Regions from separate parts of the Homo sapiens genome. Here region 1 is linked to region 2. Evidence: fine-mapped expression QTL. A gene starts in region 2. The other region holds a variant in brackets. All regions are shown on one strand. Distances are between the middles of the regions. Region 1 overlaps LINC02977 (long intergenic non-protein coding RNA 2977). Region 2 holds the start of SUSD1 (sushi domain containing 1).

The links. PIP is the estimated chance that this variant, and not a neighbour inherited with it, causes the effect.
Region 1: its variant is fine-mapped to the expression of SUSD1 in whole blood (INTERVAL, PIP 0.95).

Annotation. Positions count from the first base shown.
Region 1 is chr9:112,033,959-112,036,866 of GRCh38, forward strand. All of the region lies in intron 1 of LINC02977 (long intergenic non-protein coding RNA 2977), which reads right to left. Among named protein-coding and RNA genes, the nearest start is that of LINC02977, 5.0 kb to the right of the region's middle. RefSeq lists enhancers at 278-367, 1,938-2,037. The variant G/A (reference allele first, on the strand shown) is at 1,799.
Region 2 is chr9:112,173,987-112,176,894 of GRCh38, forward strand. SUSD1 (sushi domain containing 1) reads right to left here and starts at 1,311. Exons shown (of 17, transcript NM_022486.5): 1 at 1,147-1,311. The coding sequence starts at 1,249. It also overlaps the pseudogene RPL29P20. RefSeq lists a silencer at 770-1,429.

The sequences.
Region 1 (2,908 bases), 140 kb before region 2:
TAGCTCTCCTAAGATTCACAAGCTCTCCAAGCTAGATCTCCTAGGTGGGTTTCAGCTCTGCATCTAGCTCCACCCCCATCTGAGTAGCATCTCTACAGAAGCCTACAAGGGTCTGAGGCAGGGCAGCAGCAGCCTGCAGGTTGAAAGAGAGGAAGCCACAGGAGTGGCCACAGAAATGAGGGAAAGTAAAGGAACGTGGCTAACACCAGAGACGAACAGATAGAGACTCTGAGAAGTGGTCTCTGGGGGTCGAGATGGGGACCTGTCCTTTTGCCTTTGTGAAGTTTCTTCATTCTCCATCTAATCCAGAGAATTGTTTTGGAGACACCAAACTCAGACACATTCAGACCAAATAGTTGTGTATTCATTTTCCATGAGAACTCTAGTAAGAATGTTCATGAATGCAGATCACAGGAAGCCAAGTCAGATTCAGAAAGCTGATTTGTGCCCTTGGAAGCCAGCCAGAGTGGTGGTGGGGTACTTAGGCTAGAGTCTCCAAGGCTGACAGCCCCCTACATCATCTCCTCGATAGGGCTACATGCAGTGTGGACATTGACATTCTCTAGCCAGGACCTTGTCCAATGCAGGAGTTGCACTGCCCAGCCGCTGCTCTCTGACTATCCATTCCTAGGCTCCATAATGACAGCTCCCCTTTTGTGGGCACTGCCTGTGTTTAGGCAGAAGGCGGCATTGTAGAGGGCCTCACTGCTGTCCCTGACCATCATCAGCAGAGCAAAACCCATGCAAACTATCAGGGGTACTGGAGCTCATCTGTTGCACACCAATTCTGGTGTTCATCTCCGTGACATCCCAAGCCACAGTCATTATCCCAAAACAACCCAAGTTCCCTCTGATCCTTGGAACTGAGTCCCCTTTCATGTCCTTGGGTCTCCCTTGGATGGAGGGAGTCATAACTCATGGCTAAGAGCTATAGGTGCCCCTCACCTCCTCTCCCTATCTCTGCTTCTCACAGCTACTGCCAAGTTCTTGGCTTGGAAGGGTCATGGGGGCCAAGAAGGACCTTTGTACTCTCCATTACTCGGCCCTGGAGTTCTCACCACCTCTGGAAGCTTTGAATCTGGTCAATGTCTCCTTACTTGCCAAGCCCACCAAGACTCAAGATGGCCACTCCCAGGGACTAAAGCACAGAGCTAACCCTTCAGGTCCACACACTAGGTTCTCCCCCATCTGGTAGAGGTAGACTTTTGCAGACCACACTCATAAATTCTGAATCCTGCTAACCCCAAGGCTAGGGGATGGGACACAAGCCCACGGACCCAAAGAAACAGTGCCCTTTCACTCCCCCAAATCTCTGTGCCGCTCAAGTGAATGCATCTGGTCAGAGGTGAGAAAGTCAATTTACAGACCCAGCATATGACAGCTCTTGGCAGCTTTGACACCACGTGGTAGAGGGTCCAGAGGTCCCTCAGTACAAGCCTGGAAAGAGGAGCTTCAGAGAGATCTCCACTCAGAGAATATGACTTGTGTCCTCTACAGCAACAGAAGACACAGGGCCTCGTATCTGATTCCAAGGATAAGAAACCCAAGGGTCAAGAGGTGGAGGCTGCCAGACTAGTGGCAGGCAAAACAAAAAGAAGCAAGCTCCATTTCCACCAGTCAGAGGACAAAGGCTCTAACAGGTAAGAAAACTGAAGTCTGTGGCTGGAGCCAGCAGTGACGGCAGGAAAACCCTCTGTTTGGCATGCCAAAAATCTATGAGTTTCCATGCATCAAGCAGACACTCTAGGAAGTAATTGTGCTGGAAAAGCCATCTTGATATGATTTCCCAAAAAAGGCC[G/A]ACTGGCAGAGCAAAAGCACTCCTGCACTTTCAGGGGCTGGAGCTGAGATAGAGGCCAAGAGTTCAGAATAACAAAATATAAAATAGCTAGACAAGCACAACAACATATACATATGAATGACCTTGTAAGTTATAAACTAGAATACTCAGGCCAGCCTCGGTGGCTCATGCCAGTAATTCCAGCACTTTGGGAGGCGGAGACGGGAGGATCACGTGAGGTCACGAGCTCGAGACTAGCCTGGCCAACACGGTGAAACCCCCCTCTCTACTAAAAATATAAAGATTAGTCAGGTGTGGTGGCACGCATCTGTAGTCCCAGTTACTCGGGAGGATGAGGTGGGAGAATAGCTTGAAGCAGGGAGGCAGAGGTTACAGTGAGCTGAGATCATGCCACTGCACTCCAGCCTGGGCAACAGAGTGACAGAGTGAGACCTTGTCTCAAAAAAAAAAAAAAAAATTAATGGAAAAATAATGGTAACTTATTCTTACTTGGTATAAACAAAAACCTATTTTAAAGTTACAGTAGGTGGTATTGGCACAGAAATAGATCAGTAGAACAAAAGAAGAAGTTCAGAAATAGACTTCAGCATATGATTCAGTATATGATTTCAAATCACTAACAGAAAAAAACAGTCAATGAATTTTTTTTTTTTTTTTTGGAAACAGGGTCTTGCTCTGTCACCCAGCTGGAGTACAGGGCATGACCATGGCTCACTGCAGCCTCAACCTCCCCTGTTCAAGGGGTCCTCCCACTTCAGCCTCCCAAGTAGCTAGGACTACATGTGCACACCACCACGCCTGGCTAATTTTTGTATTTTTAGTAAAGACAGGGTTTCACCATGTTGGCCAGGCTGGTCTTGAACACATGGCCTCAAGTGATCCACCCACCTTGGCCTCCCAAAGGTTACAGGCGTGAGCCACTGAGCCTGGCCTCTGTTAATTCTTATTTTTTGTAAAGATTGTGTGTCGCCATGTTGCCCAGGCTAGTCTCGAACTCCTGACCTCAAGTGATCCTCCCACCTCAGCCTCCCACAGTGCTGGGATTACAGGGGTGAACCACCGCTCCTGGTCTCAATGACTATTAATAGGACAACTAGCCAACCATTTAGC
Region 2 (2,908 bases):
TGTGGCTCCCGAAGCGCCTAGAACTGGCTAGACCCACTTTTCTTGTCACTCCCTGAGACGGCTTCCAGTGGCTTCCAGGCACAGCTAAGTCCAAAGGCCTAGGTCTGCCAATCAAGGCACTCTGCCCTCTGCCTCTGGTGCCTCCGTGTGCTTCCTTCCCTTCTCCCCCGGGCCTGAATTCTGAAGGAATTCATTCATTCTACACTCATTTGTGGAGAGGTGACAGTGCCTTCTGCTATGAGCTGGGATACCTTTTTCACATTTTCCCATATCCAAATATGACCAATCATTGATGGCCCAGCTCAAGGGTCACCACCGATTCCCCTTTCCCTGCCCTCACCACCCACACCTTCTCATGGCACCCATGCCATTCTGCCTTGTATTACAGTTATGTGGATGAATGTCACCTCCCCTGCGTGTCTGAATCCTCTGTGTAATTCCTACTCAGCTCAACACTGCATTTTGCAGAGGAGGAAAAACAACTCCCTCGATTGCTTGGAAATAGAACATTTGCTGGTCTAAATCCTCCAGACAATGAGCTCCACGAGGGCCCGCACTGCCCGCCCTCATCGCGCACAGGGAAGCTGTTCAAGGGCCATCTGTTGAATGAATGAGTGAATTAATGGCTTCACTCCTGTACTCTTCCTTACGCGTCTTTCTCACCATATTTAGCATCCGGCTCTCTAACAACGTGAAAAAATTAAAAGTGGTAAGAAAATTGCTTCGGGTCAAAAATGTGTCATGCAAAAGCCACCGCAGAGCCGGAAGCGTGACAGCGCCGCAGAACGCCCTGGCCTCCCCGCCCTTCCCCGGGCGCCGCCCTGCCCGGGTCCGCGCTCGCGCCCAGCCCCCACCCCGCCTCCTGGGCAGTGGAGGTCCCTGGGGGCCCGGCCAGGCCGCCTTAAAACCGGCGTCCCCCGGCGTCGCGGGGTCGGGCGGGGGCAGGGAAGCCCGGCGGGGAGCCCCCCGCTTCTCTGAGCTCCTCCTTGCCGATCTCCAACGGCCGGCGCGGGCCCCACCTGCGCCCCACGCCTCGGCACCGCGCCGGCCCGGCCCAGGGGCGGGGAAGCGTCCGTGCGCCCAGAGTCCTCGAGGCCCAGCCGGGGGCCCCGCCGGCCGCCCGTGCCCGTCCCAGCCCGCACTCACCGTCGGGGCCCGGCGCTCCCGCGGCGCCGCGGGCCAGGCCGAGCAGCAGCAACAGCGGCAGCAGGCGGCGAGACGGGCCCGCATCCCAGGGCCCCCGGCCCATGCCGCCGCCGGTCCCTCCCGGCGCGCCCGCGCCTCCTCCCGGGGCCCTCAGGGTGCAGAGATAAGGCTACAGGCGCCGCGGGGAGGGGACCAGCCGGCGGCTTCCGGCGCCGCCGAGGGAAGCGGGGGGCGCTGCGGGGTCCCCGGGAGGCCGCAGAGCGCGGGTCCTTCCTCTTGTCGGGGCCTGGGCTTAGGACACGCCCGTTCCGCGTCCGTCTCTGGCTCCGCACTTGCTGCCCTCTCGCCGCTCACATTCGCAAAGGGGGACAGACACTCATCGGATAATGACACAGCTGGACGCAGAGCCCCGGAGAGTGCTGGGGAGGAAATGTTGCGGAGGATTCAAGCCACTCGAGGGCTCAGGGAGGCACCCCCGGGGAGAGGGGTGAGGGGAGCAAGGGGCGGAAATCTTCCAGGACGTGAAAGGGAGCTGGATGAGGTGACCACAGCGCAAGGCCCAGATGAGAGGTCGGAAGACGCAGACCCAGGCCACCCAGGGGCGACACACTTGACCAGGTGACACCTGGTCACCGGGAGTGAGAGAGAGTAGGGCTGTGATGGAGGGAGGGGCTGGCATCAGTCCCCGCTGCTCTGAGGACACCCGGCTTGGGACGCGCTGATGCCAGCCCCTACCTCCATCACAGCCGTACTCATCCCAAGGGAAGGAGTAAACCAAGACCCAAGGATGAGAAGGACGTTGGGGAGGAATCTAAGCGGGAGTTTGTTGTAGAAATGGGGAATGGGGACCTAGAGTGAGAGCAGAGGGTTGGAGAGGGGCGTTGAGCTGCAGAGGGAAGTTAGCCCTCCTAACCCAAGTGATGGAGGTCGCCGGGAAGCTGTCACAGTTTCAAGCAGTGAATGACTTCATCACTGACACATCTCTGTCTGTTCTGTGGAATTGGGATTGGGGTTGGGTTGGGATGTGGAAGGCAAAGAGTCCAGCCCGGAGTTGCTGCAGGAATCAGGCAATAGAAGACATGTCCTGGCCCGGTGCGGTGGCTCACGCCTGTAATCCCAACACTTTGGGAGGTCGAGGCGGGTGGATCACTTGAGGTCAGGAGCTCGATACCAGCCTGGCCAACTTGGTGAAACCCCGTCTCTACTGAAAAAAAAAAAATTAGGTGGGCACGGTGGCAGGCACCTGTAATCCCAGCTACTCGGAAAGCTGAGGCGAGAGAATTGCTTGAACCCAGGAGGCGGAGGTTGAAGTGAGCCGAGCTCGCACCACTGCACTCCGGACTGGGCGACAGAGTGAGACTCCATAGACAGATAGATAGATAGATAGATAGATAGATAGATAGATAGATAGATAGATAGATAGACAGACAGACAGACAGACAGACAGATAGAGATAGAGATAGATGTGTCCTGCAGCTGGGCATTGACAAATGAGTGTGAAGAGGGCAGTGTGTAAGAGTGGAATCCACTAGGTTTTATGACTAGTCGGGGAGAAGGAAATAAATAAGATCCGGTTTGAAGGCTTTGAGCTTGTGATGTCTGTGGGAGCGCAGCCGAGAGCAGGCACCCCACTACTTCACCCCATATCCTCACTTGTTTACTCTCTGCCATGAGCCTGCCGTAAATCTCACCACTTTCAAACACACCCATATAAGGGCTAAAGTTGTGGAGTCTTAACAAGTAGTTAAAAATCAACTTCAAG